Regions from separate parts of the Homo sapiens genome. Here region 2 is linked to region 1. Evidence: fine-mapped QTL for protein levels in blood plasma. A gene starts in region 1. The other region holds a variant in brackets. All regions are shown on one strand. Distances are between the middles of the regions.

Region 1 (15,661 bases):
AAAGGTCATTAGATATGAGGGGGTTAAGGAGCTGTGAAGCCAGACTGACAAGTGGCTTATCCACATGGACTTTGAGGTCACCCAGGATGATGGCAGGACACAGATGATGGTGAGCCAAGTACCAAGATTTTCAGTGATAGATGGTAGATGATAATGCTAGAGGGAGTGGATGGTAGATAACAATGATGAAGTAGGCTGGACCACAGCCAAATGGGAGTGGTCTCAGAAAACAATATTTTGTTTTGAAAAAGGCAGAAACATAATGGTTTGGTTGTGGCAGTAGGGAGCTGTGATAATGCAAATCCATCTTTTTCTACCTGTGGTATGAGGGGCATAGGAGATGAACAACCTCTTATCTACATTGCTTGAAAGTGGCTCATCATTTCTGGGATAAACCCAGACTAAGAAGGAGTCATAAATTCTTCATGCAAGATCATTCAATGGACACATTAATCTTCTAAAATGGCTGTTTTCTTAGGCTGTTTTGTTATTAATGAGAATTAGCAAGCCACACTCACCACTCTATGGTAGACATTCTCCTGCACACTGCTGTACATTTATAATCTCTTTGAAAGAAAACCAACCAGTCATCCCAGATACAAAATCTAAAACCTAATTAAATAGGTCATAATATTTCTAAAATTTAGAGGCTAATCATTAAAACAGAATGAAATAAGCTTTGTCGGCAAACTTCAGAATTCTCTCTCATTCCCCATTCACTGCTAGGGATTTGACAGTAACCTTAAGACTTTCCTGTTACTCCTTCTATCTGTCCCTCAAATCCTTCTCTCATATATTTCTGATAGAGACCTCTATTTTTTGACATATAAAAAGCTAAACAACTTAAGATCAAAAAATAGGATACATAAATTCTGAGATGATTAGAATATGCCTTAAAATGCTATTTCACAATAAGGATATATAAAGAATAATACTCTACAAAAACACTCCCTTCTATTATACAATGGGGTAAAAGGATTTTTGTGATCTCTAAAACATTATTCCTTTGAGATGAGATTTTAACATCCTATTGCCCTTGCTAATGATGTCGCTGGGCTTCATGATAACAATATTCCTTTGGTTATCATGAATCAGCTGTTCTTGTCTTTTATGAGCTACTCTGAGACCTTTAGAAGGTCATTACACCTGGGAGAAGAAGGGTTGCCTGACTCACTCTTGATAGTTCGAGGCAAGAATCTTTGAGCAATCAGCATCCAAGCTGAGACCTGAAGCAACAGAGGCATGGACATTCAGGGGATTGGGGACTGCAAGAAGTTTAATAGATCTAGATCTTGCAGTACACAGTAGGGAATGGAAAAATCAACTGGAGATTTAAGTAGTGGCTTTGTAAACCATGCTAAGGATTGTGGTTTGTACTTTCCCTTGGAGGAATGGAATAGGGATCCACAGGAGTTTCTGCTGATTTCCACTTCTTCCAGACCACTCCGTGGGTGATGTTGACTGTAGAGCCCAGAGAGAGAGGGTACAGCTATAGCTCTACCTCCATAGCATCTGCATCCACATGCACACATATACTTAGTCCACTCACGACCCCCAAACTGCAATACTCAAGTCTTTTAATATTATCAAAATGGAAAAGAAAGGGCTGGGTCTGCCCTTAGCTGGTTGGCTCAATCATATCATCAGTAGAAAAGGTCTGTAGAGAAATTGGTCCCTAAGTTCCGTATATTATTTTCTAGATGGACTACAGATAAGTGATAAAAACCGAGGGGCTACAGAATTGGGTAGCTGGAGAAGGAAAAGTGTAATGTTAAAAATGTAATCTGAGCATTAATAAAAAAAAAAACTAATGATGCTACTTAACAGAGATAACAGGATGTCCTACCTAAGGTTAAATTAGGTCACTGCCACTGATAAATTTAAGACTGAAAGTTTAACATGCTTATTTTGTTACCAGCCTTCTGTGAGCCCAAGGGCTATTTGCTTTATATTTATCCTATTTGGATCCTTCTGCGAAGCTTAAAATGGCCATGAGACACGGGTTAGGTCATGGTGAAAATGGTAAGAAGCCACTTTAGTTTCTTCCTGCCAACCTTCCTTCTTGAATCAGACACTTTAATTTCAATTGCTATGAGATCACATAGTGGAAACATGTATTCCCAGAGGGTGATACAGTGCAATACTATCCTTAACAGGCAAATCCAAGGCATAGCCAGTCCCAAGTTGATCACTAGTGCAAATCATAAAATACCTAAGTAACTTTTAGGTGACTTTCTCATAAACACCAGAATGACATGGGTTTTCTTAACAAAATATCACTGGTTTGAGACCTAGGATGCTTCTAAAACATTGTTATTGCTCCCAGATTTCCTTTCTCAGAGAATTAGGAGAGAAACAAAGGTTTGTTGAGGACCTGTTATCTATAAGTTGTTTCAGGTGGGTGCTTTATGTAATTTGTTCATAAAATATACATATCAGGTATTATTATTGTCTTCATTTTATTGATGAGAAAACTGAGGCTCAGAGAGATTGAGTAAGTAATGTGACGAAGATTCTGCAGAGTAATGTATGTTTAGTCAGCACTGAAACCCAAGTCAATGGGTCTTGTTTCTAAAACACATGTTCTTTTCACTCTACCATACGTTTATTTCAGTGACCAGATACATGTAGTTTTCTGACCTAGAAATAAAGATTGGATTCATTATCCATAGGCTTCTGAGTTCACAAATCACCACAGCCAGTCAACTACCTGAGAGACTGTTGAGTCCTCAGCTTTAAACAAAGTTTTCTACTTCCCTCCAAGTTGAAAGTGTAATAGAGACATAAAAAACCCTTCAAAAAATCAATGAATTCTGGAGCTGGTTTTTTGAAAAGATCAACAAAATTGATGGACCACTAGCAAGACTAATAAAGAAGAAAAGAGAGAAGAATCAAATGGATGCAATAAAAAATGATAAAGGGGATACCACCACCAATCCCACAGAAATACAAACTACCATCAGAGAATACTATAAACACCTCTACGCAAATAAACTAGAAAATCTAGAAGAAATGGATAAATTCCTCGGCACATGCATCCTCCCAAGACTAAACCAGGAAGAAGTTGAATCTCTGAATAGACCAGTAACAGGCTCCTAAATTGAGGCAATAATTAATAGCTTACCAACCAAAAAAAGTCCAGGACCAGATGGATTCACAGCCAAATTCTACCAGAGGTACAAGGAGGAGCTGGTACCATTCCTTCTGAAACTATTCCAAACAATAGAAAAAGAGGGAATCCTCCCTAACTCATTTCATGAGGCCAGCATCATCCTGATACCAAAGCCTGTCAGAGACACAACAAAAAAAGAGATTTTAGACCAATATCCCTGATGAACATCGATGCAAAAATCCTCAATAAAATACTGGCAAACCAACTCCAGCAGCACATCAAAAAGTTTATCCACCATGATCAAGTGGGCTTCATCCCTGGGATGCAAGGCTGGTTCAACATACACAAATCAATAAATGTAATCCAGCATATAAACAGAACCAACAACAAAAACCACATGATTATCTCAATAGATGCAGAAAAGGCCTTTGACAAAATTCAACAACCTTCATGCTAAAAACTCTCAATATATTAGGTATTGATGGGACATATCTCAAAATAATAAGAGCTATCTATGATAAACCCACAGCCAATATCATACTGAATGGGCAAAAACTGGAAGCATTCCCTTTCAAAACTGGCACAAGACAGGGATGCCCTCTCTCACCACTCCTATTCAACATAGTGTTGGAAGTTCTGGCCAGGGCAATCAGGCAGGAGAAGGAAATAAAGGACATTCAACTAGGAAAAGAGGAAGTCAAATTGTCCCTGTTTGCAGATGACATGATTGTATATCTAGAAAACCCCATCGTCTCAGCCCAAAATCTCCTTAAGCTGATAGGCAACTTCAGCAAAGTCTCAGGATACAAAATCAATGTGCAAAAATCACAAACATTCTTATACACCAATAACAGACAAACAGAGAGCCAAATCATGAGTGAAGTCCCATTCACAATTGCTTCAAAGAGAATAAAATACCCAGAAATCCAACTTACATGGGATATGAAGGACGTCTTCAAGGAGAACTACAAACCACTGCTCAATGAAATAAAAGAGGATACAAACAAATGGAAGAACATTCCATGCTCATGGGTAGGAAGAATCAATATCGTGAAAATGGCCATCCTCCCAAAGTAATTTATAGATTCAATGCCATCCCCATCAAGCTACCAATGACTTTCTTCACAGAATTGGAAAAAACTACTTGAAAGTTCATATGGAACCAAAAAAGCCCACATTGCCAAGTCAATCCTAAGCCAAAAGAACAAAGCTGGAGGCATCACGCTACCTGACTTCAAACTATACTACAAGGCTACAGTAACCAAAACAGCATAGTACTGGTACCAAAATAGAGATATAGACCAATGGAACAGAACAGAGCCCTCAGAAATAATGCTGCTTATCTACAACGATCTGATCTTTGACAAACCTGACAAAAACAAGAAATGGAGAAAGGATTCCCTGTTTAATAAATGGTGCTGGGAAAACTGGCTAGCCATATGTAGAAAGCTGAAACTGGATCCCTTCCTTACACCTTATACAAAAATTAATTCAAGATAGATTAAAGACTTAAATGTTAGACCTAAAACCACAAAAACCCTAGAAGAAAACCTAGGCAATACCATTCAGGACATAGGCATGGGCAAGTACTTCATGACTAAAAACACCAAAAGCAATGGCAACAAAAGCCAAAATTGACAAATGAGATCTAATTAAACTAAAGAGCTTCTGCACAGCAAAAGAAACTACCATCAGGGTGAACAGGCAACCTACAGAATGGGCGAAAATTTTTGCAATCTACTCATCTGACAAAGGGCTAATATCCAGAATCTACAATGAACTCAAACAAATTTACAGGAAAAAAATAAACAACCACATCAACAAGTGGGCGAAGGATATGAACAGACACTTCTCAAAAGAAGACATTTATGCAGCCAAAAGACACATGAAAAAATGCTCATCATCACTGGCCATCAGAGAAATGCAAATCAAAACCACAATGAGATACCATCTCACACCAGTTAGAATGGCAATCATTAAAAAGTCAGGAAACAACAGGTGCTGGAGAGGATGTGGAGAAATAGGAACACTTTTACACTGTTGAGGGGACTGTAAACTAGTTCAACCCTTGTGGAAGTCAGTGTGGCGATTCCTCAGGGATCTAGAACTAGAAATACCATTTGACCCAGCCATCCCATTACTGGGTATATAACCAAAGGATTATAAAACATGCTGCTATAAAGACACATGCACACATATGTTTATAGGGGCACTATTCACAATAGCAAAGACTTGGAACCAACCCAAATGTCCAACAATGATAGACTGGATTAAGAAAATGTGGCACATATACACCATGGAATACTATGCAGCCATAAAAAATGATGAGTCCATGTCCTTTGTAGGGACATGGATGAAGCTGGAAGCCATCATTCTCAGCAAACTATCGCAAGGACAAAAAACCAAAGACCGCATGTTCTCACTTATAGGTGGGAATTGAACAATGAGAACACTTAGACACAGGAAGGGGAACATCACACACCGGGGCCTGTTATGGGGTGGGGGGAGGGGGTAGGGATAGCATTAGGAGGTATACCTAATGTTAAATGACGAGTTAATGGGTGCAGCACACCAACATGGCACATGTGTACATATGTAACAAACCTGCACGTTGTGCACATGTGCCCTAAAACTTAAAGTGTAATAAAAAAAGAAAGAAAGTGTATTAGGTTGATAGCTCCCAAGTGATACAGTTTTAATTCTTTGAAAAAAGATTAAAAAATCACAATGTACCTAATTTTGAAAGTAAAGCTAAATTATGAATGTAAAGGACTTCCCATTATGACCTTTGTCCCCAACTCATGAGTGTGTATATGTGTTTTCTTTCCTTTTTTGACATTTAAAAAATTATTTATTTTTTAGAGATGGGATCTCTCTGTTGCCCAGGCTGGAGTGTACTGGCATGATCACAACTCATTGCAATCTCCAACTCCTGGGATCAAGAGATCTTCCCGCCTTAGCCTCCCAAGTAGCTGGGACTACAGGCATGTGCCATTACACCTGGCTAATTTATTTTATTATAATTGTTACAGCCAGGCTCTCCCTATGTTGCTTAGGCTGGCCTCAAACTGCTGGTTTCGAACTCCTGGCCTGAAGTGATTCTCCTGCCTCAGCCTCTCTAATAGCTGGGATTACAGGCAAGAACCACTGCACCAGGCAACTCTTTTTCTTTTTTGTTTTTTTTTGTTTTTTGTTTTTTTGTTTTTTTGTTTTTTTGTTTTTTGAGACGGAGTCTCGCTCTGTCGCCCAGGCTGGAGTGCAGTGGCACGATCTCGGCTCACTGCAAGCTCCGCCTCCCGGGTTCACGCCATTCTCCTGCCTCAGCCTCCCGAGCAGCTGGGACTACAGGCGCCCACCACCACGCCCGGCTAATTTTTTTTGCATTTTTAGTAGAGACGGGGTTTCACCGTGTTAGCCAGGATGGTCTCGATCTCCTGACCTCGTGATCCGCCCGCCTCGGCCTCCCAAAGTGCTGGGATTACAGGCGCGAGCCACCGCGCCCGGCCTCTTTTTCTTTTTTAATGAAATAATAGAGCTAGTAGAAAATAGTTTGCTTTTTAAAGTGCTTACTTAATAAAATAAAAAGTGGGCAACTCGAAATAAAAAATCAAACAATATCTAACATGTTTAAAAGATTTTTAAAAATCAAAATATAAAATAATATCAAAATTTAAAAACTGGGATTCTGTTCCCCAAAGTTCTGTTCAAATCTGTTAGATTTATCTTCCCTTGACCCTAAGTAATATCTTGGGCAAGCCCTAGAGCTTCTTTCCTGACCCTTAGTTAATAAGATGTTATCTGGTCACATTCAGTCACAATAATAGACTCATTTTAGTAATAAACATCTTAAGACTAGTAATTAAAACTCTTTACTTCACACCAAGTTTCCTCCCCAAGCTTGGCCTGTTCCTGGCTGGCAGCCTGAAGTAGGGAAAGGAGAGATATGGTGACCTTTTCTTTGTACCTTTCTAGCTACCCTCTATACCCTGACCCTACATACATAATTGAGCTGTGGCTTCTGACTCTACTGGGTTTGGGGATGAGAGGCATTGAGAGTAAAATGAAGGAGTGGTTTTAATTAATGGCACAGCTAAAACTGGATTTTGTTCTCTCTGCACATGGCAGATGTTTAAAGCTCATTCTTTCTTTTATGCAAGTTTTTACACCATCCAGCCTCATTTGTACCTCTTGAATTTTTGCTCAGTGGCCTATCACCATTCAGGATCAAGACAAAAATCAATGAGCACTTATTGTGTGTCATGCACCCTACAAAGTGCCAGGATATTTATCCAAACTCCTGGCAATGCTAAACACAATGCAAAAAGACATATTAGAAAACGAATCTTATTAACTTTAACTTTTCAACTGTATTTCATCATAAAGTCTTACTTTACAAGATAATTGCTGTTGTGAAAAAGGGAAAGGTCATGGTCTCATTTCCCAGATGTTATTTGATATATGCTATAAATTATATTACCTCCAACATAGTCTGCACTTTGAACTTAGAAAAACAATCTTCAGACGGCATGCATTCTAATTCTTGAAATAAGTATGCCCACAAACTGTAATTTAAGACAGAATAGGTATGCTTCTCATGTTTTAATTCAGTTGAATTTCAGAAGATCTCAGGAATGTACAGAACGAGAATTAAGAATTAATTAATAAGAATTAATTAATTGCTTGACATAGTTAGGTGATTTCCTGAACTTTAAGCTTCCACATCACAGTATGAAGTTGGTTCTAAGATAAGAAATATAATAAATTCTCGCCCAAGGACAGACCTGAATCTCTAGCTGCCTAGAGGCTGACTCAACTGAAATCATGGCGTTTGACAGCACTTGGAAGGTAGACCGGAGTGAAAACTATGACAAGTTCATGGAAAAAATGGGTAAAGACTTTATTTCTTTGTGGCTCATTCTTTGCTTTCTTACAAACATTTTTCTTTCTAACTCCTAAATCTCTAGGAGATTACAGATAGCTTACAGATAGCTCCTGATGTGGTAGAGAGGATCCAGAAGATGTTCAGAGGAGGGAAACCATATTCTCCCTTCTTACATTAGGAAGAATCCACTATCTCACTAATGGAAGAAAAGATTCTTTGAGTGCTGTTCTCTGAAACACACCAAAAAGATCCAGAAATGTTTCCTTCCCTCTTTAACTGAAAAATGACTTTTTTTGTTGTTTACAGTAAGAAAATGGCAGCGTGTAATGATAACTTCCAGATCTGAAAATGTTAAATTCTAGGAGATGGAAAAACAAAGACCATATAAGAAAGTAATGGAAAAGGTTCTCTTAAAATTTATAGCGCTGAATAAGTTAGATTTAATTCTGATTTCTTCTAACTTAAAAAAGTTTTGGAATAATCTTGAGAAGCTGTGTAGTTTTCTCCAGGGCGTTTAATTTAACTGATTTATAATTTGATACCAATACTCTGGCAGCCCATATACTATACAAGATAGGCAAACAAATTTGTGTCATTCCCCTAAAAGAAAAATCTGCATCAATTATAGCTTACAGTTTAGGAACTCTAAGTTTAAATTTATAAAAGTTGTAGATTCTTATAGTGATTTTGGCTTAATATTTGCTAATTTTCTCATTTTTGTGTCAGAAAGAAATGCCACAAGAAGCAAATAGAACTATAAAGTTCAAAATGTTAAAGCCACTAAGAAAAACAAAGGGGCATTTAAGAAAAAAGAATACTGTATATGTGGAATTAAAGATGTGCTTCCTTATAAATATATGAATATACATTTTAATCCTTCATTTGATATTTCTAGAATTTGATTTACTTAACACTGAAATGAACAGTTTGTTAATCTTATTAAGGTTGCTCAGCTCTAAGATTCTATAATTCTGTACTCTACTTAATTTTTCTCAAGTTATGGAAAAACAACTTTAATCAGTTCTCTTGATCTGATTGAACCTGAACTTCTGTAGAAGCAATCTGAATGTTCTTGTGCAAAGGCAATGCTACCGAGTTTTCTTCCCACCCTCAAAATAAACAAACAAAACATAACTTGGAAAAATAAACACTTCCTATGGGATTTGACTTTATTTTCTCCATTGTCTTACCTTTTACAGGTGTTAATATAGTGAAAAGGAAGCTTGCAGCTCATGACAATTTGAAGCTGACAATTACACAAGAAGGAAATAAATTCACAGTCAAAGAATCAAGCACTTTTCGAAACATTGAAGTTGTTTTTGAACTTGGTGTCACCTTTAATTACAATCTAGCAGACGGAACTGAACTCAGGGTAAGAATTTTTTTTTTTATGAGCAATGCATTCTTGATTTTTCTACCCAATATTAAAATGATTTCTGCTCTATTTCATTGGATGGTTTAATTAATGCAGGTCTCCTTCACTAACTGAAGAAGCCAATGAAGTTTGTCTACATTATATATTGCACAAATTGGCAGGATATTTAAATATGTTTTTATTTTTATACGCATCTGTGAAGAATCTGAATTGAACAGTAAGAATTAGAAAACTATCTTTTGAATGACTGAATATAGACCTATTCATAAAGAAATTTAAAACTGTGTTTTTAAACAGTACAGCAAAAGAAGCCTTTAGAGTTAATATGTAACTTAACTGTAATAGCAATTTAACATGTTGAAATAATAAAAGAAATGAATAGATGAACAAATGAGTGAGTTACCAAATGGAAAGATTTGATGTATTGTAGGTCATTGGGAGTGTACCTTTTCATGTTTAAGATAACACATTTTAGGAAGTCATCATTTTCAACAAATTTTTTAAAAACTTTTTTTAGCCTCAACATTTTTCTATTTAAATTACATGTTTGTAATGACAATTTAACTACTGAATGTTTTATCATAAGTTATGTCTTTCTTTAATTAGTACCACAATCACACAAATTAAAACAAGCACAGAGTTGTTAACATCTCCATGAAACTAATTTTAACCATGACTATATTTCTGGACACGTAACATGAAAGATTCAGAAAGAAGTGCTGCTCATCTGCCTTAAAATTCAGCGTATGGAAATTATTGAAGAGAACAAGCATAATGGTTATCAACACATACTCTGTAGCCCAATGGCCTAGGTTCAATCCTCACTCTGTGACTTTAGGTGAATCACTGTGCCATTTTACAGTCTCCTCTTCTGCAAAGTAGAGATAATAGTATCAGTTTCATAGGGTCACCATGAAGATTAAATGAAAAAGTGTGTCTACAGAACTCAGAACAGTGCCTGACATGTGTAAGACCCTAATAAATGCCATTATTATTATTATTATTATTATTATTATTATGTAGGGGACCTGGAGCCTTGAGGGAAATAAACTTATTGGAAAATTCAAACGGACAGACAATGGAAACGAACTGAATACTGTCCGAGAAATTATAGGTGATGAACTAGTCCAGGTGAGTTGTCAAATTTATAGCTATTTTCAAAAGGCAAAAATTACTACAAAACAATAATTTTTGTCACTGCTGAGCCAGATCTTCAGTAAACTGACTACTTCTTTTCTCATAAATCTTACTGATTTTAAAAATATTGTATAGCTATTTTCTGATGCCTATTTACTAAAGACAACTTATATATGTCAAATAATCAATGCCTATTTTAACTGAAAATATAAATGACTACAAACCAACATGTGTTTTAAAATGGCTGTATCCCATATCTGTATAAATCTTGCTATCAAGTACAAGAAAAAATTGTATAAACTCATACTCATATAATATATATGAATATATAATATAAAAATAGTATAAACTCATATAGTATAAAACTATAATACTACTTTTTCTTAACTTAGATGTAAACCTTAAAGATAAATTCTTCTGTTTGTTAACACCTTTCAGACTTATGTATATGAAGGAGTAGAAGCCAAAAGGATCTTTAAAAAGGATTGAGCATTATTCTTGGCGCACAGTCCAAAATACAAATTGGACAGAAGATCTATATTGTACCAGAACTATTTATTTCACCCCATCAAGTATAAGGTTACTGATTGATTGGTCCTTTTATAAACATTGGTATATTTCCATTCATGCCAAAGCAAAAGAAGTAAAAGCTAATTAGGATTTAATTTGTTTTATATTCTCTAAGATATATATTTACTAAAAGAATTTGTGACATTTTAAAAAACAAAAATAAATATTGCGTCCATGTTGCTTTATATGTAGCCTTGCCTTTTAAAAGAAAAAGTATGTGAATATGAATTGACAGACTGTTTTCGTAGAGAGAGGGTCTTACTCTTTCACTCAGGCTGGAATGTAGTGGAGAGATCATAGCTCACTGTAACCTCAAACTCCTGGACTCATGCAATCTTCCTGCCTCAGGCTTCTGAGTAGCTAGGACTATGGGTACATTCCACAGTGCCCAGCTAATTTTTGTTTTGTTTTCTTTTTATTTTTTTTAGAGATGGGGTCTTGCTATATTGCCCAGGCTGGTCTTGAACCCCTGGCCTCAAGCAATCCTCCTGCCTCAGCCTCTCAAGTTGTTTTTTTTCTTTACATTTGATAAACTAAAAGCATAGGCTGCATATGAGTCTTTAACATCTTGAACTGGTTGTGAATAATTTTCTGGCACTGGTTGTAAGTAATATCTATTATTATAAAAATAATATATGCTCAACCAGAAAACTTAGAAATAAGAAACACAAATGTAAAATAAGTATTTCCATAACTCATAATCCAGAGATAATTGCCATTCTGATTTTGATAGATATCCTCTCAGCTCTCTTCCCTGGGGGCAGATATTTCCCAATACATACCACTTTGAATAGGATGATAGGAAATAAATGATGTACTACATTAAATTAAATTATTGTATTACATTTTTGTACACATCAGTCATTCCCACGCTTGGCTGAAAATCAGGATCATCTGAGAAACTTAAACAATTTCTGCATTCTTAATCTCCACTGTTATTCTATTATATCAGAATCGCTAATAGAACCAAGAATTCTAGAAAATTTCCTGGTGATTCTGATGCAGCCTGTCCACTAACTTGTCTTTGAGAACAATGGAGATATCAGTTATCAATGTTATTTTTAACCACCCCCTTCTTTTTTGTTGTTGTGGGTTTTTTCACATAAACACATACATTGCCAATTTTCCAGGGCTCAAAAAGTTTCCTTTTATTCATATTTTCACATGACGTAAAATTTTATGTGCTTCACATAATTGTATTTTAGCAGGGTACATATTAGGGGATGGAGAGGGGGTACAATTTTTAAGCATTTGCAGCTGCAACTCTATAGACTTTTGACAAATTCTTTTTCACACTGATGTAGATAACAGCTTAACATTTACATAGTTCTTACTACTTGCCACACACTGTTCTAAGTGGTATATACATATGACATATATATTAAAATGTAGGAAGAAAAATGTTTGAGTACCTGATGAAAATGAATAGAGAGTATGTAATCTTTGAAAGCTGAATACTGCGTGTTCTCACTTATAAGTGGGAGCTAAATAATGTATACACATGGACACACCAGAGTGTAGAATAATAGACACTGGAGACTTGGAAGAGTTGGAGGGTTGGCAGGGGGCGATGATAATTTACTTAATGGGTACAATGTACATTATTCAGGGGGTGATGGTTACAGCCCAGACTTTACCACTATGCAATATATCAATGTAACAAAACTATACTTGTACTCCTTAAATTTATATAAAAATACCTTAAATCTATGTTCATTTTATAATTTCATAAAAATCTTCACATAGGAAATAGTAATTATTTAGATTTTCACATGCTTCTCTTCATAAAAGCTCAATGTATTTTTATCCCTCTAATCTTATGTGTCTACCATATATGAATCAGGAAAAGGCAGGTATTAATCTCAATACAAAAACTGAGAGAGACAAAGGCACAAAGAAGTTTATTAGCTTGTCTAATATTGTACAAAGTCCATGATGAACAGAAGAATTAAATGTAGGTCTTGACTTTCAGCCTAGATCATTATGATCTATGCTATTACTCAGCCTGTTATAAACAAAAATATATTAAGAAAAAAAATGTCCTTAATTCCTCAGTGGCACCCAAGAATAGCACTCTAAATGAGTCAGGTCAGACTGTAAAATAATGGTGTTGAGTGATTAGACACTTATCTATTTCTAGTCTCATTGCAGGCTGACTTTTTTCACCATTTATATCCTTTCTAGAATTAAATTTCCACTATTTATTAGTATTGGAGAACAGCCTATTATTTGTTAAGTGACTTCCATTTCAACAACCGTTTTTCGGGAAAACCAACCTTGTCATTACACCACCCTGCTTGGCCAAAAGAGGGTCCCTGACCCAAGAGCAGCCAATCTACCACAATTTGGCCAGATCATGAGCTCTGTGTAGAAGGAAAAATGACAACTAACTGAACCTGCAAGAACCTCTTTCTAGGGAGTTTGAATTTGAGAAGTACACAGTTAGTAGTTGATAGCAAGGAAAAAGGCTTAAAGAGGACAAATAGAGCAGACAATAAGTAGAAGTCATGAGTACCTGAAACTATGAACAAGCAGTAACCATAGGGTAGATAGCAGAATGTCGGGGCAGTCAGAAGCAGTTGGAGTAGTAGAAGCTGAAATATTTACACATGCAATATGGTATCTGGGATTTGCTTCAAATTGCTTTCTCCCCAATCTAGGGTTGGGGAGGAAGATTGATACAAGTTGGCAATTCTTGCAGCTGTTGCAAAGTGCCTGACACATAATAACATATGATAGGTTCACTGAATAGGAACACAGGAATTCATTATATTCATCTCTGTACTTCTGTATGTATTTGAGATTTTCCATAACAAGAAGTTAAAAATATAGTACTTACATACACATATAACTCCAGAATCCAACCACTTCCCATCACTTCCACTGCTATCACCTTAGTATGAGCCACCATTATCTTTTTCCTGGATTACTGTTACAACTCTCTAAAAAGCCCAAGAACTTCTACCTTCCCTACTCCACCCCTTTAGTCTCTTTTTCTACACAGCAGCCAGAAGGATCCTTTAAAAATCTAAATCTGATCACATCGCTTATCTGCTCAAACTGCTGCAATGGCTTCCATTTTCACTCAGAGGAAAAAGCCAATGTTCTTACAATGACCTGTAAGACCCTATATGATCAGATGCCCTGTTACCTCTCCAACACGTGGTCCTGTTTTTCATGAAATATCTGGGGGAAGAGTGTTTCAAGCAGAGGAAACACCCTGGAGCAAAGACACCAAGGCAGTAGCAAACCTGGTAAATTTGAAGAACATAGCCTGGAAAGAGTCCCCAAATCACCCAGAGCTGACCAAAAACAAGACCAATGTTCAGGAAACACAGGCTGACTCAGCTTTCCTAAAATTTAGGAATGATGTGGTGAAAAAGAATGGGTTTTAGAATCACAGACTTGCCCAAATTCTTGTCTGCCCATTTACTGACTAAAATTCAAGTTCTGATTCTCTATTTTTCTCATTTGAAAAATGGGGAAAATGTAATGATTTTCTGAGCTTGTTGCAATTGAGGTATTATGTATAAAACATCGAGTGTAATGCCTGGCATATACCTGGTACTCAAATGTAACATAAACATGTACCCTTCTCCTCTAGAGAAAATGGGGCAAAGTATATCCTGAGTAGATGGGAAAACTCTTTTCTTAAAATACCTCTCATGGAGTCTGCGTGAGAGAGTGAGCCTTGGCCTGGTAGATGAGAATACTTAGTTCCAGTCCAGTCTGTGACATAACTAGCTGGGGACTTTGGGAGAGTCTCTTCATCTCTTTGGAATGTAGTTTAATCATCTTTAAAATGAGAGGATTGAACTAGATCTCCAAATTTTCTTTCAGTGCTAAGATTCTATGATGTCTGAATGACATTTAGTGATTCCTTCCTTTCTTAAGCAGCCTTTTTGGTGTGGGTCACAGGGGACAGGACATTAGAACAATGGAAGGTAGGATGGGAAGAGGGAAATATTTACATTATAAAGTATGGCTGGTTTCATGGGTGTATGGCTTGTGTGGGCTCAGAGGGCCCTGTGCTTGGTTTAATGCTCTTTTCTTACTGTCCTAAAATTCTCAATACTTTTTGAACAACTTCTGCATTTTCATTTTACACAGGGCCCTGAAAATTATGTGGCTTGTCCTATTTCTATGGATTGACTATTAATAAGTACAAAAGATATTTTCCTATGAGCAACTAGAGAGAATGGTAGCAAGACATCTCTAGGCACCTAAAGAAGGGTGAATGGATGGATGGAAAAGATAGTTGCCTGGGATAAAATGGAAGTGAGATAAGGTTATGTGGTGATGGGGAAGGGAAAAAGGAGGTAGATGGTCACTTCATCATTAAGAAGTGCTTCTTTACCTTTTGCTACTTGCTTTCTCTAAACTATAGTATAAGAATGCCATCTGCTGGCCAAGGATACAGACTCTTTCGGAGGTTTCCAATGCAGTGTCTTTGCCGCATTTCAGTGTCTAGGGAGTGTTCCAGAAAGGTCTGATATACCGTAGTCTACACTTTAAAATGTTAATTATTAAATGCTTCTTCAGTTCCAAACTCCACACTAAACAAAGCTAATACAAAGACTCCTCT
Region 2 (15,661 bases), 38 kb before region 1:
ATGTGCATGCGTTATATGCAAATATTAATACTATGCCACTTTAAGTCAGGGACTAGAGCATGCTTAGATTTTGGTACCCAAGGGAAGTCATGGAACCAAACTCCCACGGATACTGAGGGACAGCTGTACTTTAAATCCATACTAATAGATTAACCAGAGGTCAACGGACAGCCTTTATAAGCCATGAAATAAATTTTCAAATAGAAAATAATAATCCTACCTGATAGAATCCAAAATAAGAGGCAACCCCGCAAAAATGCATTTACGTGACCAAATTGCTACACTAGCATTGATAAACTTATTTTAAAACAGTAGCTTGTGCATCCATGTCAGTGATATAGCTATATTCTATTTTCGCAAGAAATAAAGTTTTCAATTAGCAATAATCATGCCTCAGATAAACCTCATTGGCTATGATACTGCCACTGTACAAAGCTAGAAATAAAGTTTTCATAAATTATATAGCCCAAGAAAAGGCATAATACACTTAAACCAGATTATCAGAAGCACATTAATTTTACTAACCTAACAATGAGATTAAGACATTAAGGTCCAAGAGGTAATAATATTTTTAAGACTATATGTCAATAATGCTAGGGTTTATAAAACCTTTGGCTGGTGTCAAACCAAACATGCCAGAACCACATATAATTTAACAACTCTAGACTGTGACCACCTGGACTGGATTGGAGAGGCGTACCCTGAACACTGGCAACTAGCCTGATACAAATGTGCTATCCCACACACAGGCTCCATACCTAAACAACATCACAAACAAGAAAAAAAAATCCACTTTGAACTGGATATATTTCTAATAAGGACTTTGATTTGTTTTTATTTGTCTTGTTCGAGTTCAAATTACAAAGACGCTGTTATAAGATGCTAAATCATAAACAGGATGGAGTCATTTTTTTGTTCATCAAGATAAATGCCTTTTATGTACCACATGAAACTACTTAAAACGTGAATCTCAAAATGATTCAGCCGTGGAGACATCTTCAAGGACCATATATTTTAATAATACAAAGCCACAAGTAACTCAATTACTAATGCTTCTAGAGTACCTAGCCTTGCTCCGAACAATAAATTTTTTAAAAACCACTTTGGGTGTCGTATCCACCTAGTTTTATAAGACGCTCTTATACTAAGGTTTCTAGGTTTTCTCAAACTAGCTGACCTCAATGGCCATTCCATATTAAATTTTAAATAAGACTTTTTTAATTCTATATTCTTATATTGAATAAAAATAATTTAACTAGAATGGAGACTGGATGTTCTAGTTGGTCTAATATTTTGATTAAAACTATGAGGATTACCAAATTCAGACTTAAAATATAATAAAATACAATTAACATCAAAACTCAAATGGTAAATAATTTAAATTTTTATGCCTCTGGATAATAATAAATTAGTACTAACCAGGTAAAGTGATAAAATATCAAGGTAACTGATTTCTGGGTGCTAGAATGTCAGATAAATTCATTACAATGATATAAGTACCCATGGTTATATCATAAACAACCACTAATCCTGAAGGTTTGATTCAGGAATTTATGTAATTTTTTTTTTAAGTTTTAACCTGTGTTTTCCAAGCACATCATCTGCCAAACCCTTTTACTCACAAAGGACTTCTATCCCATGAGAGAAAGAAAACAGAAATGGAAAAGCAATAAGCCTTCCATAGACACTGCTGGGAGATACATAACTTTTGCTCTAATCACTGCATGTCAAACCAATGGAACAGGTGATTCTAAATCAAAGATTTAGCATGGTACTACAATCACCCAAGTGTGGTCTCCATGCCAACTCAAATGCACAAGAGGGAGAGAACTCTATAGCAAATTAGGGACATTTTTTATATGACCTGATTCAGAATATAAAGAGGGAAGGAAAAGTCATATGAGCTATTTTCTACCCAGTGATCCCAAATAATTTTAATGAGTTATTCTTTTTCTTGGTCTTAAGTCTTTTTATTCCTGCCCATCTCTTATTTCTGCTCAACATTTATAGAGCATTTAGATATTTTTGCAAGCTTTAACTGTTATATTTTTACACCATTTCAATGCAGTGGCAAAGCACTGTTGGCCTCATTTAATAGCTGAGAAACGGAAAGGTTAATATCTTACTCAAGGCTCTTCTTGAAGTCAGTAATAAATTCAAGATTTGAGCTCTGAATTTTAATACTATAATTAGCCAAAGTCCACTGGGCCATGAAGTTTACTAGCAGAAAGCCAACGTAAGGGCTCCTTATTATTTCTGAGTTGTTCCACATTAATGTAAATATGCAGCATTATACGTGTAATTCAAATGATTTTACCTTGAGGAATTATTAACAACATTTTAAAAAACTGCTCAGTAGATGTTTCTGTTCACCTTGAAGATGAGCTTTCTACAGAACACCTTGCTACTTGGCAACTTCTAGATGTGTGGCTATGAATGAAGCATGGTCATCCACTCAAAATGGGTGGAGGGCAGTGTTGGAGGAGCAGATCTGGAATATGACTGTAACAAAGCTCAAAACATAATCAAATATATAGTGATAGTCTCTGTCAGAACAGACTATTTTTTTTTTTTTTTTTGAGATGGAGTCTCACTCTGTTGCCCAGGCTGGAGTGCAGTGGGGTGATCTCGGCTTACTGCAAGCTCCGCCTCCTGGGTTCACGCCATTCTCCTGCCTCAGCCTCCCTAGTAGCTGGGACCACAGGCACCCGCCACCACGCCCAGCTAATTTTTTGTATTTTTAGTGGAGACGGGGTTTCACTGTGTTAGCCAGGATGGTCTCTATCTCCTGACCTCATGATCCACCTGCCTCAGCCTCCCAAACAAAGTGCTGGGATTACAGGCGTGAGCCACCGTACCCAGCCAGAAGAAACTATTTTTAACATGAGGTTTAAAATGGTCCACATTATTAAATCTCCACAAGGAGATAAATAAGAATTAAAAATACCAGGGCACCCTGCCCTCTAGTTGAGAATCTCTGTGTCAATGAATCACTGTGTCTGGTGGAGTTTGGCACATCCTCAAGTGCTTGGGGATAGAAAAAGACAACTACCAGATTACAAAAAAATTCAGAAATGGGTTATCCAAAGAGCAATTATTTGTCAGAGTTTTCCCAGTACCATGAAAGGTAAGGAGACATTGGGTTTCACAGTATGTAATCAATACTCAAATCACTAGAAAGGTATACTTTGCAGTGGGATGCCAGTTTGGTAAGACTTTCCATTATCCCTTTGAAGTAAATTCCCTTTCCTTGTGCTCACCCAATGAAGCTCTGATTACTAATTCTATCACTTAGGTATCTAGATCCTGAGAATGATGCACACCGGATAATGTAAACACAGTCCCTAGAAACACCTGTTACCCGCTGAAAATTAGTTTAAGATCATTTTGGTTCATGTATTAGTTTTCTGATTTTGGCTACTCTGAGCTATTTCCCAAAAGTCTGATCAACTCTGAAAGAGCTAACAAAATAGTTTCTAGACCTGCAAAGCCAAGAAATAGATTGGGCAAGCGATGTCTAACCCCTACTGTGACATCACCTTCATTGCTCACCATCTCAAGCAGGTCCATCTGAATCTCTGTGCCCTGTTCCAGGAATTGCACCATAAGCCAGCATAGAAAACAAAGTATACTTTCTGGATTACCACTGAGTACCTATGTCTTCCTGACATCTAAGCAGTCAACATCTATTAGTCATCTGTTGGGTATTTCCATGCTAGAAATGCATGCTAAAGAATACAGTTTAGAAAAATAAAATATATACACAAATAACATAAAAATCACTGTATTTATGCATAATCAATAACATATATTCAGTCACATCTCTACTATTCATGAAACTTTTCTCTCTCACACTCCAAGTAACTTATAGCTGAATTTTCCAATTCTTTTGACCACACTACATAGTAAGACTTTTTACCTCACAACCTAGAACTCAAAGTTTCACAAAACATGCAGACTTGCTAGGATCTGCTATTTTCTTCTGAAATAGACTTTAAGCTTGAATAGCATTTCCTACTCTTGGCTCTAATTTTTCTCTTAAATGCTAATAATGACCTACTAAGTTTATTTCTTGACCCACTAGTTGATCACCACCCACACCTGAAAAACAAAAATGCTGCTTTAAGGCCTGGAGATGCAGCTCCCCATTGCTACTTCCTTTCTCCTTTCTTCAAAAACCCCTGCTCCTTGGAAGCACATGTCTGCTCACCTTCCTCATTGGGACTATCTAACGACACCTCAGTCACTCCTACTCATTTACAGATGACTTTTTTTACTTGGCCAACTTCATCTAATATACTGAGATGGAACAGGTGGTTCTAAATCAAAGATTTAGTATGGTACTACAATCACCCCAGAGTGTTGTCGTCATGCTAACTCAAACACACGAGAGAGAGAACTTTTTAAAACCTAAATCACCGTTCTCTCCACCACAACTTCTGACAATTTTTGATGACATAAACATCCAAATAGAACATCTCGGTTTCCTGAGTTCCAACTACCACTTCCTCCTCCACTTTTTCTCAGCTACCCACTCATGTAGTCTTGTTCTAGACTTTCTTATTCCAGAATAATTTTTAAAACACGGTGTAGAGCCAATCACCCAGCCAACCTCAGCCTAGATTAGTTGATCCTCAGCCAATCTGCAAATCCATAAGAATAAATGATTTTTTTATTAAGCCACTGAGCTTTGGCATACTTTGTTCTGTGGCATTTTTGTGGCAATAGCTAACACATTCATCATCTCTATACTAAGTATAAGTGGTATAACATGGCTGAAGAAAATCACACAACCATTCTACCTGATATTTATGACTGCAAATCTCAAATGAGCTCTCAATATGGCCTGACAATTCGACTACACTTCACTAGTAAATTCATCTTCATCCTTTGCAAGACAATGATTTATCATCTTTAGTTCAAATCTCCAGCATCCTTCTTCCTCATCTTCCTTTTGGCTGATTACTTGCCACAGCCTTTATAATTATATGCAAGCTGATAAAATACCTACCTTTCCACCATCCAAGCCACTAACTTGTATCTGACAACAACACAGTCTGCCTTCTGTCTGGTTAACAGAGAAGTTTTCCTGCTCCCATCTAAGGTAAGCCCCTTCATTTTGTTTTAGATGGCAACCTCTCTCACTTTTGCAATTATACCCTTTGTTTCTTTCTCCCCTTTATCACATCAACTTTCACTTTTCTACTAGGTTATTCTAATTAACATAAAAATGCTTTAAAATATTACCCATCAAAAAACAAAACAAAACAAACAAACAAAAACACCCTTAAACTCATCATCCCCTTCAGCCAGCACATTCTCTCCCCTTTCACAGCAAAGGGCATTGAAAGAACTTTCGGTACTCTCTGAGTCCACTTATTCTTAGTCCACTCCAAACCACTTTTCATTCTCACCATCACCTCTAAATAGCTTTTCCCAAGGTCACTAATGACCAGTGGGACCATATAATTCATCATCCACACTGGAACATTTCTGAGTAAAGTAAACACTAATCAGAGAAGACACCAGATTAGCAGGCATAAAATAGGACTGTCTCAGGCAAACGAATGTAGCGACACCTACACTGATATGGCTCAATTCACTTACTTGACCTATCAAGAACATCTGACACAGCCAAACACTGTCTCCTTGAAGCACTTTCTTCTCTAGAACTAGCATTCTGTGACACCACATACACCTGCTTTTCCTCCTACATCACCAGTACTCCATCTCCCTCATCTGCTCATCTAAAATCTGGAATGCCCCAGATTATGTCTTTGGCTTGCTTGCTTTCTCTGTCTACACTACCTCTTAAAGTGACCTCATCCACTTCAATATGCCACCAATACATCAAATCTACCTCCCTAACCTGACCCCTTCCCATCACAGAACCAACCTATTCAGCATCTCCACTTGTAAGCCCAACTGGTAAAAGTTAACATAACCAAAATAGAACCATTAATTCCCACCACCCCGAAAATATGTCCCCATCCCATGTCTTCACCATCTCAGACAACAGCACTATAATCCACCCAGTTGCTCAGGCCAAAAATGCAGGAGCCATTCTTGATCATTCTCCTTCCTCCATCCCGTCATGCAAATCCATTAGTAAATTCCATTGGCCCTACCTCCAAATATCTCCCAAATCTATTGTTCACCATCTCACGCCAACAACCCAGGCCCAAGCCACTAGTCTCTCACTTAGCCTACCCCAACAGGTATCTAAAGGGCCTCCAACTTCTTCTACTGCCCCCACAGTCCATCCTCCAGCTAGCAGATGGGAAAGGGGAACAAACTGTCTAAAGCATGAATTCCCTGCCCAAACTACAACTGGAACAAAATCAAACCTCCTTATCATAGTCTACAAACCCACTTTGTCTGGCCCTATTTACCTTTCTAATCTAATCTCATCTTTCTCCACTCTCTCATCATTTACTCTGCTCAAATAATAATCGCCCTTTTCTTTCTGGCCCATAAAACACGCCAAACTTATTCACATCTCAGGTCCTTTGCTCTTTCTGCTTGGAATGTTCTCTGCCTTTATTTTTACATCACTCCCTTCTTTTCATTCAAGTCTCTGCTCAAACGACCCCTCCCCAGAGAATAACAGGTAAAATTCACCTGTTTCTCTATCTATGGGTATATTATTTGTCTCGTCCCTACCCCTCCTCTACAATGTAAAGCCTTTCAAGACAAGGACCTTATCTATCCTGCCTGACATTGTAACACCAATGGTTGGAACAGTGTCTGGCATAGAATAGATACCCCATAAATATTTAGTAAACTATTGATTGAAAGATGAAATTCATCAGGATCAATACTGGCAGTGAAAAAAAGAGGTAAGCTCAACAGCTTAGATATAGGGAAGGGAAAGGGTAAGCCATGTATAAAAAGCAGTAAAGTGGTTCTTCATCCATACCTGATCTGGCCTGATCCAGCTACAGGTCTTACAAATCTTAGATCTTCAAGTGCAGTTCAATTCGGTCCTAAACTAATCCTGACCAATACCACAAAGCTTATTGGGCACCATATCAGTGTTTACAGTCTGGCGTTAATCTTGCTGCCCTAAACGTGATGTGCTCCCCCAAGTACCCTCATGCTTGCCAAGCCACAGCGTGACTCCTAATGCCCCACATAACAAGCCCCAGATCCTGGGTTTGTTGCCCAGTTTCCTACGGGAATGCAGACCCTCCACAATCTCAAAATTACTTGGTTGTGGTCATTACAATTGCCCAGCCCTTACCAAGTCTCTTTCTAGACAAGCCAGAAACATAAGAGCTATAGGCTTGAGTGTTCACCCAGGGCAGCTCTTCCTGGATAAAGGCACTGCCATCAGCCTAAGAGTATATGCTACCACCACTACCAACACCACGAAAGTCCTGCTGCCAGGCTCTCTGCAGCATCTCATTCAGACCTGAATCTGTAACTCACCTCTAAACATTTCAGTTCGGACTGCATGCTACCCTCAGTTTTTTTTGTTATTGTTATTTTGAGATGAAATCTCACTCTGCTGCCCAGGCTGGAGTGCAGTGGTACGATCTTGGTTTACTGCAACCTCCACCTCCCGGGTTCAAGCGATTCTCCTGCCTCAGCCTCACGAGTAGCTGGGACCACAAGTGTGCACCACCACGCCTGGCTAACTTTTGTAATTTTAGTAGAGATGAGGTTTCACCATGTTGGGCAGGCTGGCCTTGAACTCCTGAGCTCAGGTGATCCGCCTCCCTTGGCATCCCTCCCAAAGTGCTGGGATTACAGGCATGAGCCACTGTGCCCAGCCTACCCTCAGTTTTAAAATTATTTTTTGAAAATGTCAAAAAAAAACACAAACACAAACACAAACAGAAAAAAAATACTTGTTGAATGCTTGCTCCATCAGGTCAGTGCTCCTACGCCTAGCCCTATTCATCTCTGGCTCAAGCTCCAATGCCAATCAGAGGTTAAGCAACTTAGGCAAGGTCACATGGCATTTAAACAGCAAAGCCAAGATCCAAACCCACTCTAAGTATATACTCTATTCATTACTTTGTTCCCTGTTCATTTTTTTTTTTTTTTTTTTGTAGCACCAGGACCGAGTACTTATCAGAAATTCCATCAATGACTGTTTAACTGATGGGGTGTCTTAAATATTTTTAAGACAGATTTTTAAAACAAATCTCCACCTACTGGGAATTTCATTTCAATGTTTACCCACACAATATAGAAATACACAAAGCAAAAGCACTCTTCACCAAAATCCACTTTACCTACTCACCTGATGAACCAACTCTCTCCATGCCCTCAGTAACTACACTCTACTGTGCTTGCACACGTCTGCTCCTCCAGCTGGGATGCATTTTACCAATTCATACATGTTGGATTTGCTCCCACATCTGTTTATGACACTTGCACTTATTGAAATTACACAATTTAAGTAAATGAATTCAATGAAATGTGAATGTAAAAAGAGCTCTTTCTATGAAAACTAAGTTGGCTGCTTTGGAGTGGCTTGATCAACGTGTTACTGGAAAAAAAAAAATAAATGTTTTCAATCCAATTA[G/A]ACATGGGAGGAATGAAAGATAAACTGTATAATTCAAAGAAGATTTTGCCTTGAGATTTCAAGTTCAGTTCTTGCTGCACTTAAAAAAAAAGCCTGGAAATTATAGTTGGTGCATGATTATGGTATGGTTTGTGCAAAAAAGGACATGTGGCTCTTGAAACAGCTTACCATACTTAGTTTTACAAACAAAGATTGGAATACAATTGTAAACCTACATGTTTGAGGTTAAAATATTTAGGGTACACATGTATTCTGTTTTGGTGATTTCCCTACTTTGGCTGGCTTTTTATTGATTAAGCTAACTTAAAGCTTTTTCAACTATGTCAACAGGCCTGGTACCATGTAAGCCCCTCCATGTGATGTCCTCCTTTTGGGAACATGCAGAGTAAAACACTATCTATACAGCATACTCCTAGCAGTTCTGGTTTGAAGCAAAACAACAACAACCTGCCCTATACCACCAATAAAATGGACGCACTATATTGAATTTTCTACTATACTGAGACTGTGTTAAACATTTAGTCTGTTTATTACCAATAACTGATTTTAGATGTCCCTTGAAAAACTCTCATTTAAATTTTGTTTCATTTCTAAAGAGATAGAAAGTGTCTGTCTCAAATAATTCCAATTCATCCAACATATATTTCATGAACTTTTTAAAACCTATCCATTCAAAACTGTCAGATGTTTCTCAAATTCTTCTAGATGATAACAGTTCTAATATGGAAAGAATCTGTAGATGAGTACTCATAATATTAATTTAGGAATGAGAGCATTTACTTTCATGGGCACTGTTTATTAACAGCATTACCTTTGTTTTTAACACTTACATCAAGTGAGAAACTCTTACCTACTTTTAGGAAGCCAAAACAAATACCCAAAGGCGGAGAAGTCAAACTCATGTAACAAAACTACAAATTTAGCAATGAAGTAAATGCTTTAAGAAGTTCAAGATCCTTTAGGATTCTCCAAAAGTGTTAATTAACACATCTAATGACATAGCATGTACCTTGAATAATTTTTGGATCGTGAAAAAAAATTTTCAGTTATAAAGACATTTACATTTTTGAATTTATAAACTCTCTTTGTAAGCAATACTAGTTAATGACGATTTAATAGTTGCTGTGTGACGTTGAGCAAATTATTTAACCTTCTTAAACCTATTTCTTCAATCACATTGGGGTAACACCTATCTTACATGGAGGCAAAAACATCAAATGAGCTACATATAAAATGCTTAGCATATAACTAGAGATATACCCATGTGAAAATCCTTCATACATGCACATACACACACAGACTCACACACACTTACATATTTATATTTTTTATACCTAAAGCCAAGTATTCTTGGCCGGGAGTGGTAGCTCATGCCTATAATCCCAGCACTTGAGGAGGCCAAGGTTGGCAGACTGCTTGAGGTCAGGAGTTCAAGACCAGCCTGGCCAACATGGTGAAACCCCATCTCTACTAAAAATACAAAATTAGCCGGGCGTGATGGTGCATGTCTGTAGTCCCAGCTACTTGGAAGGCTGAGGTGGGAGAATTGCTTGAACCTGGGAAGCGGAGGTTGCAACGAGCCAAGATCACACCACTGACCACAGCCTGGGCAACAGAGCAAGACTCTGTCTCAATAAAATAAAAAAATTTAAAAATTTAAAAATAAAGCCAAGTATTCTTAACAGTGGAAGGTGGGGCAAGCAGCAAGGTACACGGATTCTCTGAAAGTGTATTGAAAATGTATGCAAAACTTTGTGTAGATAAGCTAATGTGCCCTTTCCTTAGAAAAGGGTTGACAGTTTTTCATCATATTCTCAAAGGTGTCCATAACCACCAAATGTCAAAGAGCATAGTTTTCAATAGCCTTTGGCTGTATTTTCTCTATTTCCCAGATTTATGCAGTTCATAAAGTTTGCTTTGAAACTCTAGACACAAGTTAAATTTTAATTCACTCAACAGCAACAACAACAAAAAAGTTGAATTACAAGTGTAGTCATAGGTAAAATATTGGTTCTCCTTTTATCTCCCTTTAAAAAAAAACTGTAAATTCATTTAGCTCAAATTATCCTCCAATTTTGCCATAAATAAAACCAAATATCCAAACATAAAGCCAAAGTTTAAAAACCTAAACAAACAAAAAAACAACAGCAGCAACAAACACACAAAAAGCTAGGAAACCTGGAATGGCCAAGAATTCAAGCCCTATTGCTTGTATAAATCAGAAGGGACTATAATAACAATAGTCCCTTGTTTGGAGTTAATTTTTTAAATTACTCATTCTCTCATTCTGACTCCAAGTTAACAACCTTCACTTCAAATAGGTATTATATTGTTTAAAATTAGTGTAATAAGGAGACCATATGGTATCATGGAAGAGACCCTACACTAGTAATCTGGGAAACCAGGGTTACAGCCCTGTTCTGTCGCCAACTGACTGCCAACAGATGGCTGGACCTCAGCATTCCACAGCACAATGATTCTACACCAAAACATGCAATCCCAAAGATACTTTCTAGCCCAATATTGTACTTTACTACTAAAACAGAAACTTACAAAAGGGAGGTCACCTGGTAAAAGATTTGAGTCTAGGTCCAGTGAGAAAAATATACCACCACCAAGAAACATTTGAATTACAGAAACTTCTGTTCCCACTGTCAGCACCTTCAGGGCATATAAATTCAGAGCACGGCTTCCAGTTAGGGCCACTTAAAACTTCAGCTTAACATTAATAACAACAGACACCTTCTTCTTTAAGGTGGACAACACTTTACAAGAAAGATTTAACAAAATATAGATTGACAAAAAATACACAAAGCAGGAAATAGGAGTCTGGTGTATCTTTATATGGTATAGTCTTATTTTTTTCATTGAAAAACACATGTCATGGAAAAAGTAGCTACTTTTAATCTAATTTATTTCTCAACTGCCTTTTCCAAAACAAGTATTTTTCAATTGAAAATAAAAGAAAGCTTTACAAACCATGATAGCCCTATGCTGAAGAGATATCCCTCTCCCTCTTAAAAACAAAACAAAACTATACAAATATTAAGCATTTAATAAGCCTGCCAAATGTAACTCTTAGAATGTATTCCTGCATATTCTAAAAGCTAAGCAATATATACACAAGAGGCAAATTAGGATGGCAAGAGTTTTCTGAAAGGCTGTGATGACTAATATTTCAGGACTGGAACATGATAGTTATTAAAAGAAACATGAGAGGCGTTCTCCTAATTCCTAATAGGCCCATGTCCCCACCACAAGAACTACTACAAACAACATTCAGGGCTGAATTCACACAGTTTAGTCTCTAAGGCCTAAAGGATTTTTCTCAATTTTTTCCCATGTGGCCCATTATGTGAATCAAAGAAATCAGTAATTCATTTGTTGAAGGTCAAATATAAGGACATAATGAGGCCCATGCACTAAAATGAATAAAAAGAATGAACAAAAAGAAACTAAGATAAACTCTTGTTGAAAACAATGCCCCAGAATCTAGCAAATAGTCTAAATGTACCTAAAAGACCAGAATGAGATGACGTATTAGTTCAGTGATCTCATGACATATACCAAACACTTTCTTCCATGTTAAAAAAAAAAAAAAGTTCATCTAGCATCTGATGCATACATTTAGAAACAACTCCAATATTGACCAAGGTTTTTCAAATGCCTTACCTCATAACTGGAACTTCTAAGCAAAAGCTAATGAGGCCATCTGGGAAAGATCACCAGGAGGCCTTACTACTGCCAGTATTTCACATGGAACAATCGATAGCATGTCTTAACAAGTGCAAAGATTTCAGTCTCCGAATTCATTTTGTAGCATATTTCAACTAGTTAGCAGGGATAAGGATTGAACCAACAACTTCCTATTTGTGCAAGTAGAATTTAAAGATTATTTCTTAAGAATTTAGTCCTAGTTATTTTTGTTGTCCTCAAAACACAGTGTCCCTGTTAGAAGGAATATAAATAAACACACATTTTCAGATGGCAATTTGGCATTGCTATCAAAAAATTAATATATGCATGTACTCTTTGATTCACCAATTCCATTTTGAGGAATCCAGCTTATAAAATTTGGGGATGCAAATATAAAAATGTCCACTCATTGCACTGTTTTTATACAGGTGAAAAAATCATACTATATATATATATAGCTGATTAACATGAGTTAGACCCATATACACTAATGTGTGAAGACCCCTAAGACACTGCTCAGTTCAAAAAGCAAGTTTCAGAACAAGTATAGTATTTCTTATGTAAAACAATTGTGTGTACGTTTGTGTGAATAAATGCATGGAAAATGGTCTGAAGGGATTCACAGTACATAACAGAAGCTGCCCTCTAGAGAGGAAGAAGTGAATCAATGTATGTGAACTGGGGTATCGAAGAGAAGGTCCATTTTCTGAAGAGGGATTTTCACCTTTTACTCCACATCCATCTGTATTATTTAAACATTTATGTAACACACATAAAACATTTGTTCTTTATAGAATATAAGATGCAATATCAACTTTTACCTAAACTCCAGAATCACTTAAAGAGGATGCTCAAATAGTAAAACAAAGAATAGGCTGGGCATATGGTGGTTCACACCTATAATCCCAGCACTTTGGGAGGCTGAAGAGGGCGGATCACTTGAGCCCAAGAGTTTGAGATCAGCCTGGGGAACATAGTGAGACCTCTCTACAAAAAAAATAAGAAAATTCGCTGGGCATAGTGGCACATGCCTGTAGTCCCAGCTACTTGGGAGGCTGCAGCGGGAGGACTCCCTGAGCCTAGGAGGTCGAGGCTGCGTGATCCATGATCACACCACCGCGCTCCAACCTGAGAGACAGAGCAAGATTGGGTATCAAAAAAAAAAAAAAAAAAGACAGAAAGAATATTGGCAGTCAAAAACATTCTTTGTAGACTATATCCTTCCAAGGAATAAAGAGAAATTGTGGGCAGCATCAATGAACAGTTATAAATGAATATGACAGTGTTTTCATGAAAGAACAAGCATCATTCAGAGAACTAAAGGATCTGTATCTCAGATCTTAAAGAATATAAAAGATACTGAACTCAGAAACATTACTAAAAAGGTGTAATCATTCCAAATATTTTTTAGAAATACAATTTTCACAATGAATCCTATTATTTTGGTGAAAAATGTATACTGTGTGGGTGTGCTTTTTTTATTAAAAAAAACTGTATGCATAAAAAGCTAGATGGTGTGAAGTGTTTACTCTTACCTGTACATTTTCTTCTGTAACCTGAATTTCTGCAGTGTAAACGTAATCAATTAGCATCCTCAGGGTCCAGCCATCTACCTCTTTTATTCTAACTCTCTTTGCTCGGCTCTCACTCATCTCACCTAAAACACAAAGGAATAAGAGTGATGTTACAGCAAGACACTGCTGTGGAAGTTCCAGTGCCAATGCACATTGATACATCTTCTTGCCACTCACTGTATTCAACAGGCAGCATAATCAGCCACTTTTTGCAGGCTGAAAACACTCCCCTTCCTCTTCCAAACGCTTACCTGAGCAAATCATAAAATGTACTTTTGTTACCCACTTGCACCTGCAAATCATATCACAACAATGAACGTGCCATATGTCCAGCTGCATGAACTATTCTTGTGGCTATAGGATCAGTAGCTGAGGCTGTCCCTGCTTTTGGGCATTTGTTGTCTTTATGGATTTCTAGTCATGACTAGAAGAGTAATGATGTTACTGCCTTTGGCTAATAGCAATGAACAGCTGCTGAAAAGGACCCACCTGGTTAGCATTACTCCTTCAACAAACACACAAATGCCTGCCGGGGCATGCATAGCCTGCACCAGACACAGAGGCTCCACCCTCAGTGAGAGGTCACAATCCTCATGCCAGAGACAACGAGAAAACAAATTACCTATGATGCTTAGAGAATGCAAGGCATAACAGGGATCACAATAATAACAAAGAGTTAGTCAATAGCAAAGCTTATTACAGAGATCTTCTACCTCAGATTCAGTTCCTGTTTGTTAACTGCAGCAACTTCACGCTGAAGTCATTTCCATACCAGCTTTATTACTAAAACCAGGTATCCTTCCACAAAACTGCCTGCTAAAAAAACAGTACAAGACTTTCTTCCTAATACCCACTTGTGGAAAAGAAATAGGGAAGGAGGAAAGAGAAGGGATGGTCCCTAAGCCAAGGAGACTTGGGGAGAGTAGGAGGCAAGTTTAAGCACCGAGGTGTGACAACATAAGTGAACTATGATACATGGAGACACAAGCAATTGAATGCGGGTGGGGAGGGATTCAATTAAAAACTAAAAGGACAGTCCAAGAATAATGCTGAGGGCCATGGGCAAAAAAGATTTGGCTCTAGAATTCACTAAGTTTCAAAGGTAAAAGAAGCATGAGAACGTGCCACTATTCATCATCTTCACTTTAACCCAGCATCTCTTATTAAACCATAACATAGCCTCAAGATTTCTTGAAAGCTCACTTCTTTTTCTGATACAATGCACTGTCAGCAACCATAAACTATCAGAAAAGTCTATGGGAAATCATAATTACACAAAATTCCTTTGTAAACAAAACCCTGGGAGAAGAGAAATAACAATAGTGGTGTACATTTAACCGCGTTCTTCCCTGGAGATTATCTCTGACAAGATCTCAGAAAGAAGCTGTTCACCTCAGAGCTAAAATATCCCAAAAAACTACCCTGCTACTTCCCAGGAAGAAAAACATCTCTTTGTATGACAAGGGAAGTAGGAGAGTTAATGAGAAAGATGTACCTATACCTACATAGCAGGATGAAAGGGGACTGAGTTGTATGTCTGGTGCTACAGCAAATGTTTTTCCCGTGCTTACAGAAAGGGGGAAAAAGGAAGGTCAAGGAATACAGAAAAATAAGTCTTCAGCCACATATAAGGCACCTTCCTCTATCCTATTCTTGCTGGATCCTGTGAATAGTTGGGGTATAAACTGATAGTCTGTATAAACTGAAGCCTCTTTTGTGCCAAAAGTTAAGACATTCTGGTGATTCCCACTTGGACTTGAGACAAAGGCCATAACTGATTCACCTACAGAGCCCCAATAATATGCAAAGCCCTTCAGGGCCTGGGGCCACATGAGCACAAAGCCAAACAGCCAGT

Which allele goes with the higher level. Alleles are on the strand shown, and positions count from the first base shown. The strength of an association depends on the size of the effect and on how common the allele is.
In carriers of allele G in region 2, the plasma level of the protein whose gene starts at base 7,898 in region 1 tends to be higher than with A alone (moderate association).

The links. PIP is the chance, under the fine-mapping model, that this variant and not a neighbour inherited with it causes the effect. The UK Biobank Pharma Proteomics Project read protein levels with antibody pairs (Olink). The fine-mapping took linkage between variants from a reference panel, not from the people measured, so its PIPs are less certain.
Region 2: its variant is fine-mapped to the plasma level of the FABP2 protein (UK Biobank, PIP 0.98).

Annotation. Positions count from the first base shown.
Region 1 is chr4:119,314,375-119,330,035 of GRCh38, reverse strand. FABP2 (fatty acid binding protein 2) reads left to right here and starts at 7,898. Exons shown (of 4, transcript NM_000134.4): 1 at 7,898-8,000; 2 at 9,194-9,366; 3 at 10,393-10,500; 4 at 10,945-12,786. The coding sequence starts at 7,934. The coding sequence ends at 10,995.
Region 2 is chr4:119,352,338-119,367,998 of GRCh38, reverse strand. It overlaps the pseudogene KLHL2P1 and the pseudogene RNU4-33P. Among named protein-coding and RNA genes, the nearest start is that of FABP2, 38 kb to the right of the region's middle. The variant G/A (reference allele first, on the strand shown) is at 8,537.